Linked DNA regions of Homo sapiens: regions 1 and 3 are each linked to region 2. Evidence: fine-mapped expression QTL. A gene starts in region 2. Each other region holds a variant in brackets. All regions are shown on one strand. Distances are from middle to middle.

Evidence for each region. PIP is the estimated chance that this variant, and not a neighbour inherited with it, causes the effect. A credible set is the group of variants that fine-mapping cannot tell apart.
Region 1: its variant is the best candidate, but not a certain one, in a credible set for the expression of NFAM1 in whole blood (INTERVAL, PIP 0.58).
Region 3: its variant is the best candidate, but not a certain one, in a credible set for the expression of NFAM1 in whole blood (TOPMed, PIP 0.71).

What each region holds. Positions count from the first base shown.
Region 1 is chr22:42,395,789-42,399,944 of GRCh38, reverse strand. NFAM1 (NFAT activating protein with ITAM motif 1) reads left to right here. Exons shown (of 6, transcript NM_145912.8): 4 at 1,989-2,087. Among named protein-coding and RNA genes, the nearest start is that of LINC01315, 29 kb to the right of the region's middle. RefSeq lists a silencer at 2,828-3,122. The variant C/T (reference allele first, on the strand shown) is at 1,714.
Region 2 is chr22:42,429,834-42,433,989 of GRCh38, reverse strand. NFAM1 (NFAT activating protein with ITAM motif 1) reads left to right here and starts at 1,587. Exons shown (of 6, transcript NM_145912.8): 1 at 1,587-1,753. The coding sequence starts at 1,633.
Region 3 is chr22:42,377,807-42,381,962 of GRCh38, reverse strand. NFAM1 (NFAT activating protein with ITAM motif 1) reads left to right here. Exons shown (of 6, transcript NM_145912.8): 6 at 1-1,556. Among named protein-coding and RNA genes, the nearest start is that of LINC01315, 11 kb to the right of the region's middle. The variant C/T (reference allele first, on the strand shown) is at 2,055.

The DNA of each region.
Region 1 (4,156 bases), 34 kb after region 2:
ATGCTCTGAGCCATTATGTGCTGTGACTGGGGGTGGCGCCGGCTTCTGCCTGCGAGTTAAGTAGCTCTCAGCAGCTAATCCCGCAGTAAATGGGCTGGGGTTTGGCAGGAGGCCAGGGTTTTTAATTAGCTTCTGCCCTGAGATGAGGCAGTTGTGGCTCCACTGTCAGCAGTGGCCGTGTGGTGCCTGCAATGAGGGGGGATGTCCAGGCCACCTCCCTCTGCCTCCAGAGGGCTGCCTGTACCGCCTCGTGACTCCCCAGCCTTCACCTTCCCAGCAGGCCCGGCCCAGCCTCCACTGTGACCAGCGGGAGCTTTCTCCAGCACAGCTCTGACCCTGGCGCTCCCACTTCGAGCCCTCAGATGTTTCCTATGCTCTTCATGCAGCCAGCACGGCCACGCCACGCCTGCCCCTCCCAGGCAGGCTCCTCTCTCGGGCCACACACTGACCTTCTCTCTCTCTCTCTTTTTTTCTTTCTTTCTTTTTTTTTTTTTTTTTGAGATGGGATCTCGCTCTGTCTCCCAGGCTGGAGTGCAATGGTGTGATCTCGATTTACTGCAACCTCCGCCCCCTGGGTTCAAGCGATTCTCCTGCCTCACCCTCCCGAGTAGCTGGGATTACAGGCGCCCACAACCATGCCCAGCTAGTTTTTATATTTTTAGTAGAGATGGGGTGTTGCCATGTTGGCCAGGCTGGTCTCAAACTCCTGATCTCAGGTGATCCACCCGACTCGGCCTCCGAGTCCCAAAGTGCTGGGATTACAGGCATGAGCCACCGTGCCTGGCCTATGCTGACCTTCTCCACGTGCCTCCAGACCTCCAGGCCTTGGCACCTGCTGTTCCCTCTACCTGAGGCTCCCTCCTCCCTCTTTTGCTAAATGAACTTCTTGCCCTCAGGATTTCACCTTCAATATCGCTTCTGCCCAGTGGGGCATTGGTTTCCTCCTCATGTGCCAGAGGCTCTGTGCCTGGCAATCAACCCACATACCATGTTTCGGCAAAACCACTGGTTCATCCTCCATCTCTTCACTGGTCCCTAAACTCCAGGAGGGTAGGGACGGTGCCCACCTCCTCACACTGCCTGGCTTGCCAGTGCTATCAAGTGTGTGTTGGTTGAGCAAGGGCCTTCTAAGCAGCACCTCCTAAGCACCAGGCACCTACTCCTTGTGCCCTCATTGTAACTTTGCATCAGTCTCACAAAAGAGGGTTATTGCTGAAGAAACCAAGACCCATGGCCGGGTGCAGTGGCTCACACCTGTAATCCCAGCATTTTGGGACGCCAAGGCGGTGGATCACCTGAGGTCAGGAGTTCGAGACCAGCCTGTCCAACATGGTGACACCTCATCTCTACTAAAAATACAAAATTAGCCGGGCGTGGTGGCACACATGCCCGTAGTCCCAGCTGCTCAGGAGGCTGAGGCGGGAGAATCGCTTGAACCCGGGAGGCAGAGGTTGCAGTAAGCTGAGATTGCACCATTGCACCCCAGCCTGGGCAACAGAGTGAGACTCCATCTCAAATAATAATAATAATAATAATAATAATAATAATAATAATAATAATAAATAAAACCAAGGCCCAGAGGGGAACTGGCTCGCTCGAGGCCAGAGCCAGTGACAGCAGAGGAAGACTGGACACTGGACCTGGCTGGCACCACTAGGGGCCCACCCATGGCTGCTGGCTCGGTCCCTGGGGCCCTGCCCCACTGGCACTGGT[C/T]CCAGTAGCTTGGGTCCCTACCAGCCAGGTGCTCTGTCCAGGGACATCACCTCGTGTGGGCCTTTTCCATTTCCTGTGTCTCCAGGTGCAGGAATGGCTTGATGCAGGTCTTGTAGGCATTTGCCATGTTTCCCTGGAGAGGGTGAGTGGGAGGGACTGAGTGATGAATCTCTGTGTGACCTCATGACAATCTGCCATCCTTTCCCCTGGGGGGTCTGTGCGGGGAGGAAGACGAGAGCCACTCATCCCTGGCCCTGACTCCTTTCTCCCTACAGAAGCGGATGCGGGGTCCAGGGAAGGACCCCACCAGGAAGTGCCCAGATCCAAGATCTGCCAGCAGCCCCAAGCAGCATCCTTCAGAATCTGTCTACACAGTGAGTCCCGGGGCCCCCGGCTCCCTCCACCTCTTTCAGGCCTTAGGCAGAGTCTGTCTTGTACCAGGGTCTGTCTGGCTCAGTCTTGTACCAGCTGTGTGGACTCTCCTAGCCTCAAGTTCCTCATCTATAAAATGGGGATAACAATTCTTACCTCATGGAATTTCTCTGAAGCTGAAAAGAGATGACACGTGCAGGGCTCCTGGAAGGCATACGAATGTCAGGTGCCCCCCATGCCCTGTTCCCCTCCTTGGCATGGATCCTCATTCTGGGACAAGGGGTAGTGACGGCACAAGTTGGCGAAGAATGAAGAAAGCTCCTTCATCTGACCAAACAGCTCTTACCACTTCCTCCTGTTTTTATTGTATAAACAACAAAAATCACAAAAAGAGGAAGAGGTCAGGCGCCATCCCACGCCCTTAACACATCAGTGATTTGTAATGATTTGCTCTCTCCCCTCCTGGCACATGCAGATATTATCTTACATGGTCACAATCACAGCGCAGACATGCGTTGGGACCCTGTTTGTTCCACTCTCTGCTGTGTTGTAGGCATTTTCTGAAACAATTTTCCTGGAGATGTGGGTGCATCTCCAGGAAGTGGAAGGTGGGTGCAGCGTAGGGGCCGAGGAGGCCAGGCTGCCCCAGCCTGGCCAGCCAGCCAGCATGCAGCCCTCTGCCCAGCGGCTGGGGCCGGGGAGGGCTGGGAACACTCTTTTTGCTACGTTCCTTTCGGCTCCACGAACAACATATGCTCCAAGTAGAGCAAGGGAAGAAGAAATGCCACCCAGTGCCAGCTGGGGTCCCCATCTCGTGAGATCTGGCACCGCCAGGTGGGCTCCCCACTCCACGCCTGGAAGGCACACAGCCCTTCTGGGGCCCTGCAGGTTCCCAGGTGCACGCTCCCCAGGTGCACGCCCCCCAGGTGCACGCCCCCTGGCTGCGATGGTGCTTGGGTTCTGCTCGTACGTGCTGTCGTTTCTGTTCCCACAACATTGACTCACCCTAATAACGCCACAGAACACCACACAGAGGACGCCCAGGATACAGCCTTGTCTGCTGAGGATGGGGCGGGTGGCAGCGAGGCCAAGGAAATGTCCCTGTGGGGCAGTGCCAACAGTTCCAAGTGGAATGTGATGGTTCTCAAAGGGCTTTCAGCTTCCCCATCCTGGGGAGTTTCTGTCAGCCACGGTTTTGCACGTGGCCGGAGACTTCCTCATACTCTCTCCTGTCTCCCAGCATCTCATAGTGGTATTTTCCCTACCAGGGATTCTGGTGTCAACTGTTAGATGAAAATATTTCTCTCTCTCCCTCTCACTCTCACTTTCCCTCTCCCCCAGCATACACATATGTGAGATATATATATATATATATAAAAGAAGAAAATAACCAGCATCCTAATCCCATCTTCTTCCAGGATAAATACTAAGAACATTGACTAATATATTTTCCAGTATTTTTTCTATAAATATATACAAAGAAACCCATACGCACTCACACATACTTCTTTTTTAATTGGAGCAATACAGCTATTTTTTTCATGAACATCTTTCCACGTGAATAAATATCTTTCTATGAGATTATGTTTAACGGAAGAGCTCTTTTGAGCAGAGCTTCTTTTTGCCTGGGTTTCACAGCCTCTAGGATGCAGGCCGACTTCTCTGGAGTGAGGTGAACAGACCTAACTGCCTGCAGAGTTGCAGGCCAGCTTGGAGAGTAGAGGTCATAGAACTTTGCCAAGCCCTTGACATAAGGGTCTACCAACTGGGATTGGGCCTGGGCGGAGAAGAGTGACAGTCACAACGATGATGGTATCAAGAGCCATTTGTTGTGTACCTACTATGTGCCAGGGATCATGGCAGGACTTTACACCTGTTATATTTTATCAATCCTCTTGATAAGGTTTTAGGGTAAAGGTTTTGTCCCCATTTTCACTTTCTTTACTTTTCTTCTTTTCTTTCTTTTTTTTTTTTTTTTGAGCAGAGTCTCGCTCTGTCGCCCAGGCTGGAGTGCAGTGGCACGATCTTGGCTCACTGCAAGCTCTGCCTCCCAGGTTCATGCCATTCTCTT
Region 2 (4,156 bases):
CATTCAGCTGCCTCCCAGTGCCAAGTCGTAATGAGACTTGTAGAGGCACAGACCGATGCTTTTCCAATGCTCCCCGTGTACCCTGAGGCATTGACACGAGGTCTATCACCATGGCATCAAGGTGCTTAGACAACCTGCTACTCCCAGGAGCCAGGAATAGCGTGAAGCAGCGGGTCTGCATCTCACTGTGACATATGTGAGCATGTATCACTGTGATGGATCAACAGTCAATAACACTGGGGTCCCCGCCTGCCCCCTGCGCGGTAGGAAACTTCTCCTGTTCATATGTCTTCCTCCCCTGGTGGGCGGCCCCTGCTCTTGCCAGCCTCCCAGTGCTCGTGGCATTGGTGGAAACGTCTTTAGGCTTTCACTGTTCATGTTTGGAGCAGCCCAGGGAAAAGCATGTGTGCAAAGAACTGAAATGGATCTCATGATGCCGTCACCGGGGGCTGCAGCTGGACACACCTGAGCAGGCAGTAGCAGGGTGGGAGAAGGCTCGGACATCATACCACTGGCAGTTCAAATGCCCGCCCCACAGACCTGCCCTGATCCTAGGCATGTTGTTTTGCCTCCTGGGGCCGAGGTCTTCTCTTTTGTACAACTGGGATCATCACATTTATCTGGTGAGTGAAGGGACACCTGCAGAGAAGGGAGGTAAGCGCTCAGCATGCGCTGAAACTCAGCCACCTTCCCGCCTGCGTCTTCCATGTACCAGGTGCCTCCAGCTCCACCAGCCATCACCACACCCCAGCCCCTTTCCTCTGCCACTCCAGACACGCAGGCAGATGTGTGGGTGCCAAGGGTGAGGGGCTCCCAGTCTGCTGGGGAAGGGGGTCCCGGCAGCAAACAATTCCTGTCCCCGGCTGATGCTGCTAGAAGTGAGAGCAGGGGCTGTGACCTGCAGCCAATGGGGAAGCAGTTCGAGGGTCTCACAGTTGGGAGGCCGAGTGAGCTAAGCTTTAGGGCAGCCACAGGGAGGAGCTGACGTTAGAGATGGACCAGAGAGGAGGCGTCTCCTGGGCCTCTGCAGGGGACCCACAGAGGTTCTCGCTGGGTGAATGATGGGCAGCCTGCCTTTCACCTGCCCTGGGTGTTTGGCCCTCTCTAGGGCTGGGAACATGAGGCTCCTGCCCTTCACCCCAGCCTCCCTACCACCCCTCACCAAAAAACCTACCTTTGGTAAACACATTATTAAGGGATTCTCAGAATATTTTAGAGAAGTTTGTGTGAACATGCTTGTGGTCGTTTTAAAAGTGTTTCAGAAGTGAGAGGCTAAACCAAGGCCCGAAGTCACTCATGGAAATCCCATGATCCCTCTGCACAGTTACCAGTGTCTCCTGGACGGGGCCCCTGCTGGAAAGGGGCCGAGACAGGGTGAAGCCCACCAGGGGTTGGAGTGGGGAGGCTTGGGTCCCGTCTCCAGCTCTTCTTCTGGTTGTGTGGCCTGGACCAGTCTCAGTGCCAGGTTCCTCATCTGGCGGCCACCCTGCTGGGCTGTTCCAGCTTTGCTTCTGAGCGGAAGGTCAGGGGCTGCCAGGGAGGAGCTTCGTGGGGAAAGCAAAGGGGAAGCTGTCAGCGCCGGCCGTCCCCTCCTGTGAACTAAAGAGTCGCCGCAGACAAGCAGGCCCCCAGATGGAGAACCAGCCTGTGAGGTGGCGGGCCCTGCCAGGCCTCCCACGCCCTCCTGGGCTCCCCGCAGCCCCCTGGCTCCTCCTTGGCGTGCTGCTGCTGCCCGGGACCCTGCGACTGGCAGGTAGTGTCTGTCTTCCTCCTTCTCTCTACTCTCTCGCTCCAGAACATCAGAGCGGCTTTCATCCCGCCCGGCGCAGCTAATTCCCAGGGACCTGTCTCTGGGGATTTGCTGGTTGTCGTTTGAACGCTGCAGACTTCACAGGGGAAGCCTTCTGGGACCGAGAAGATGTTTAGCTAATGCCTTGCCAAGGTGGCTTTTGAAGGGGAGGGGGACAGCGCTCTCTCCCTCGCTGCTGTGACAGCTTTGCCCCAGCAGTCTGGCCTCCTGGCCCTTAAACAAGGAGGGTGGGCGCTGTGTGGCTGGGGCCAGGGGCGGGGCAGGGGGGAGGGACAGCTCCCCATCCGAGGAACCTCACGTGGCTGCTGCGGGGGACACTGCGTTGAACCTGGCAAGTGGTGGGGCTACCCTCTGGGTTGTTGCTGGCATTGGCCAGGGAGAGCGGGGAGAGGGGGGAGGGGGGGATACCAGGGCCAGCCACAGGGCTCTGCGCCCAGAGGCACAAAACTGTCAGTCACCAGAAAGGGTCTCACCTCCCAGTTCCTGAAACACAACCAGAGGCCAAGTGTTTTAGGATGCAAGTGTGTCTTTCCACGCCAGCGGCGCTCCTTTCCTGGTTCCAGGCTTTCTTGGAAGCTGGGTGGCCGGGATCCGAGCCAAGCTGTGGGGTAGGTAGCCTCAGGGCCAGTTCATCAGGCCAGGGACGGCCCAGGAGGGTCCCATTCCAGGGCTGCCAGCACGAGGGCTCAGTGAATTCTGCCAGATTCTCTCTGCCCCTCCTTGGCCGGGCAGCAGCCAACCCTCCCTCTGGCCAAAGGGGTGGCCTCCACTGTGGAGACAGGGTGCCTTCCTTTCTATTCTCTTAGTTTATGGGGCTTTCAAGAGCTGCCCCCACCCTGTCCTGCTGCACCCCCTCTCATGACCACAAATTAGGCTTTATGGAGCCCTTAGCAGGGCACGTACTGGCCACCCTCACAGCACCCCTTGGGGCTCCTATTGTCCTCACCTGCACCATTTTAAGGACAGGGAAAAGGAGGCCCAGGGAAGCCAGTTCGTTTGCTCAAGACCTAGCCGGTAAGTAGAGGCCAGCCTCAGCCCCAGGCCAGCCTCAGCCCCAAGCTGGGCCCCTCGGCCAGTAGGCTCAGAGGATCCTCTTACTTGTAAAGAATGTTCTTCACCGGAAACTTACCCTGGGGAGGCAAAGGCTGACCTGTGTGTACCTCCCCAGGCTGCAGCCCAGAGCCCTAGGACACCATCTCCTTTAATCCTGTGCACGCCTCGCCCCACACCCCAGACAGTTGGTGCAAACACGGCCAGACCCCGGAAATGCAGCCTGTTAGTGTCAATGTGTCTCAACTACAGTCATTTTTAATTTAATTTCCCCCCAATTCCCATCCTTTCCCTTTGTGTGGTTCCTCCTCCCCAAAAGACACCCAGCACACCCTGGTAACCGAGCAGTAAGAGGTTTTATGGGGTGCTACTGGGGAAAAGCTCTTTTGTAACAGTCTCAACTATAACAAAACATTCCCAGTGCCACCCCCTCCCACCCGGTATTGCAACAAACATTACATAAAAGAGAAACTGTTCTTTCACAAGAGGTGAAAACACCCTTACGGTGTCCTAGAGTCCCTTGGAGCAGCAGACAAACCCCCACCCATGATTTTTTTTTTTTTTTTTTTTTTTGAGAGTTTCACTCTTGTCACTCAGGCTGAAGTGCAATGGCGCCATCTTGGTTCACGGCAACCTCTGCCTCCTGGGTTCAAGTGATTCTCCTGCCTCAGCCTCACGAGTAGCTGGCACTACAGGTGCCCACCACCATGCCCAGCTAATTTTTGTATTTTTAGTAGAGACAGAGTTTTGCCATGTTGGCCAGGCTGGTCTTGAACTCCTGACCGCAGGTGATCTGCCCGCCTCAGCCTCCCAAAGTGCTGGGATTACAGGCGTGAGCCACTGTGCCCGTCCTGTTTTTATTTTTTTGAGACAGGGTCTCGCTCCGTCCACCAGGCTGGAGTGCAGTGGTGCAATCTCAGCTCACTACAACCTCTGCCTCCCTCACTCAAATGATCCTCCCACCTCAGCCTCCCGAATAACTGGAACCACAGCGTGTGCCACCACACCCAGCTATTTTTTAAATTTTTTCGTAGAGATAGAGACTCACAGTGTTGCCCAGGCTGGTCTCGAACTCCTGACCTCAGGTGATCCACCCGCCTTGGCCTCCCAAAGTGCTGGGATTACAGGCGTGAGCCACTGTGCCCAACCCCCAACCCGCTCTTTGTCCTACCCCTGTGCATCCCCCTTCATCTATCTGTCACTCCATGTCACACCCCTGCCTTCTCGTCTCAGAGCTTTGAGGGTTTGCTGGAAGGAATCTTGCCCCTCCCACATCTTCCAAACCTCCCCTGACCG
Region 3 (4,156 bases), 52 kb after region 2:
AGGAATAGGCTTCTGGGGCAGTACAGAGGAGTCTAAGTGAGAGGCAGGCCTCCCTGGGAGCTGGGCCCAGGCTCTCTGCAGCCATGCCTTTAAGGAGTGCCTACGGGGTAGCACGATCAGATGGACAGGCCAGGGCTGCCCAGAGCTGGGGGTGGGAGCAAGGTAAGCAGAGAGGTGAGGGAAGGAGGGTGCTGGCTTAGCAGGAGCTGAATGAATGGGCCTGGAGGGGAAAAGCTAAGGGGGATGGGGTGGCTTGAGTGGAGTAGGTGAGGCCTAGGTGAAGGGGAGCTGTGGACCTTCCAGGACGGACGGATGTGAGCAGTCCTGAGTGGGGACTGGAGTTAGGGTGGGGAAGGGAAGCCCCAGGCAGCCCCTGCAGGCCCCTGCCCCTGGGCCCTACCGCAGCAGGGCAGCCCTGTCTCTGGGTCTCAGCTGATGCTTCCCTCTGCCCACTGGCCCCTGACCTGGTGGGATTTCCCACCATCTCTCCCGGCCCAGCCTGCCCTGCCCTCCTAGGTCTTCCCAACCTCCCCTCTGCAGAAACATCTCAGCCACGTCTGGCACCCCCAGGCATCCCTGCCTGCCTCTAGGAAGTTGACCCCTTCAATGGGTTTCAGCCTCCAACCCCACCCCCGCTTGACTCCTGCTCTGTCAGCACTTGCTTGAGAAAATCATCCTGGGAAACCAGCTTCTGGGAGCAGGGGCCTTGCCACTCGGTTCTGCGAGCCTGCTGAAGCCCTCCTTGCCACGTGTGCTTGCAGGCGGGGGCCCAGAACTAAGCTAGGAGGCCACTGGCTGTCCTGTGGGACCAGGGAAGTCTGGTGCCACCCTAGCAGAGGGCCCATGGACTTCTTCTGGAGGTCAGTCTGTGCCCAGCCTCTACCACCAGTCCAGAACTTGCAGTGGGTGCGGTAAACGGTGGCCCCTCCTCAGCAAACATTTCCAGGGGATTCTGGCAGCAGAGTTTCCATGGGAACATGTGCTGGTTCTGCGCTGAACCCGGTGTGGCTGGGGTTCCCTTCACAGCCAATATTGCAGGAACTGAGCCTGGTGGCCTCGGCCAGGGTAGGCAGTGCTCTTTGGCCACCCAGTGTCACAAACCTGAACTCAAGTTACAGGCAAAACCTGCTTTTCCTTTTTCTTTCTCTCTCTCTCTCTTTTTTTTTTTGTTAAAGCACATTCTAATGTAAAGTCCATGCTCCATTCTAAAGATGCCTCTGGGATTTCAGGGATGGATTTTTATGTAGTTCAATAGTTTTCTTGGCAGACAGCTTATGCAGGAGAGGTGGGCCGTTGGCTCAGTCCAGCCAGGCTGAGTGGCGTCACTCCATTCCTTGCAATGCCAGGGGATGTCATTTGTCCACCTGAGGGGGCTTCCCCAGTCTCCCTTCCCTGACCTGTGGTCAGAATGATGGCCTCAGCCTTGACTGAGCGCGGGTCAGGCCAGACTCTCTGAACTTGGTGTTGGCGTGTGTTTTGTGTGTGTCTGGAGGTGACATATGTGGGTGACAGAAGCATATGTTACAGTGAAACATTAAAACTACAGCAAAGTGAAACTCCTCTGATGCACCTGCCACCTCCCAGCCTCCATACCCGTCCCCTCCCCAGTAGTAACCAATCGGGTCATTTGGGAGTGTTTTCTTCGTCGCTGCTTTTATGGCATCTAGGTGTCTACCTGTGAACATGTAAAATGTGGAGCGCCGTGCGGGCTTCCGAACAGCCGCGATGCATTCATTTTGTAGGTGTTGTTTGCACTTGCTTTGTTGATGCAGCCCCACGTGGTGGGATCTGCCGGAGACAGCACACAGGAGCTGCCAGACTCCAATTACAGCAAAGGATCCTGCAGGACAGATGGATCCTAATTTAATCAGGCCCCCTATCGAAGGCCTTTTCAGTTGTTTATGATTTTTCAACCTCACATAAGGGGCTGCAGGGAACATCCTTGTACACACACACATCTGCAAAACTTTCCCTATGGGAAATGAGGAGGGATTCCTGGGACCCAGTGCATAGAAGTTCACTGTTCTAACAGTCACCACCAAATCGCCAGGCCC[C/T]GAGGTTGGACTGGTTTCTATTCCTCGGACTCTTTATCTAGAATATTTCATTTAATCCTGAAAATAGGTCTGTGATGGTGGGCAGGGGTGATCTCCCCATTTTATCGAAGCAGAAGCTACCACTCAGAACAGCTGACTGGCTCCAGGTCACACAGCCCAGGAGGAGCAACGCTGGGCTGCCTCGGCGTGTGTGCAGTCCTGCTGTCCCCAAGGGCATGTGTGCAGTCCTGCTGTCCCCAAGGCCAGGTAGGGGAGGTGATGGGGGAGGCAGAAAGAGCCATGGAGGGATGTGGTGTCCCCAGGAGTAGGGAAGCCCACAGAAGAACAGGTTTCCTTCAGAGATGGGCTGGCAGCCTCACATTCCTCTTATCCAATTTCTCAGAAGTGTGTGTGTGTGTGTGTGTGTGTGTGTGTGTGTGTGAAGTTGGGGGGGTCCTCCTGCCTCCCGGTATTCTATCTCTTTGGGGAAATGGAGGCAGATCCATAGAGCCCCAGGGGTTGGGCCTCCCCAGCAGCCCACGCCCACTGTGAGGCCTGGATCCTGGCAGCCTGTATGCTCTGATCCCAAGTCTACCCTGGAAATTCCCAGGCACAGCATGCCTGGAGGTGTGAGCCGCCTCTTAGAAGCTTTATAATCCCGGATAATGCTGCTGTAATTGGCATTGTTTTTCCATTACAATCCTTTCATTACCTGAAAACTGACTTTGCAAATGGCTATATCTGGAGTGGGTTTTATTTTACCACTTTGAGGACCTTGAGGGGCCGAGGAGTGGGGGCATTTTCTCTGTCTCTCCCTTGACTGCCCCATCCCCATCCCCCAGTGAGTTCCACAGGCCCAAGTGGGCCAGATCCTGGCCTTGGCTCAGGACATAGCCCTGTACCTTGCTGCCCGCCATGGGCTGATCCAGGGATGTCTCTTCTCCCCAGATGCCCCTTCTGTCCCCCTGCCATCAAGTCCACCCATAAGAGCCTCCCTCCAACCCCTCCTCCTCCCAGCCATTCCCAGTCCAAACAAGTCTCACCTGATCTTTCTATAATACATATCTGACCACATGATTCCTCTCTCAAAAGCCTGCCATACCTTATGGTAATGGTCAATTCATTCCAACAAGGGGGCCACCATCATTCAATGGGGAACAGTCTTTTCAACAATTGGTGCTGGGAGAGCCAAACCTCTACATGACCCCTACCTCACACCCTATACCAAAACTCACAGTGGTTTCCACTGTCCATAGGATCGGGGCTCAACCCCTTAGTCTCACATTCAGGGCTCTTACCACTCCTACCACTCCTTCACTTTTTTTTTTCTTTTCTTCTTTCTTTCTTTCTTTTTTTTTTTTTGAGATGGAGTCTCTCTGTGAGGCCCAGGCTGGAGTGCAGTGGTGTGATCTGGGCACACTGCAATCTCCACCTCCTGGGTTCAAGCAATTCTTCTGCCCCAGCCTCCCGAGTAGCTGGGACTACAGGCACGTGCCACCAGGCCCAGCTAATTTTTTTTGTATTTTTAGTGGAGATGGGGTTTCACCATATTGGCCAGGCTGGTCTCAAACTCCTGACTTCAAGAAATCCACCTACCTCGGCCTCCCAAAATGCTGGGATTACAGGTGTGAGCCACTATGCTTGGCTTTTTTTTTTTTTTTTTTTTTTTTTTTTTTTTGAGACAGGGTTTCCCTCCTATCACCCAGGCTGGAGTGCTGTGGTGCAATCTTGGCTCACTGCAACCTCTGTCTCCCAGGTTCAAGCAATTCTCCTGCCTCAGCTTCCCAAGTAGCTGGGATCACAGATGAGTGCCACCACGCCTGGCTAATTTTTTGTATTTTTAGTAGAGACAGGGTTTCACCACGTTGGCCAGGATGGTCTCAAACTCCTGACCTCAAGTGATCCGCCTGCCTCAGCCTCCCAAATTGCTGGGATTACAGGTGTGAGCCACCACACCTGGCCATCCTTCATTCTTTTAACAACATTTGTCCCGCTCCAACTATGTGTCAAGCCCAGTGCTGTGGCTGGAATAAGAAATGGACAGTCCTGTCTTCATGGAGTCCACCAGCTCATTTCTGATTGGCTCCTACTGGCCCAAAGTCACCCCAGCTCCATTCATGCTT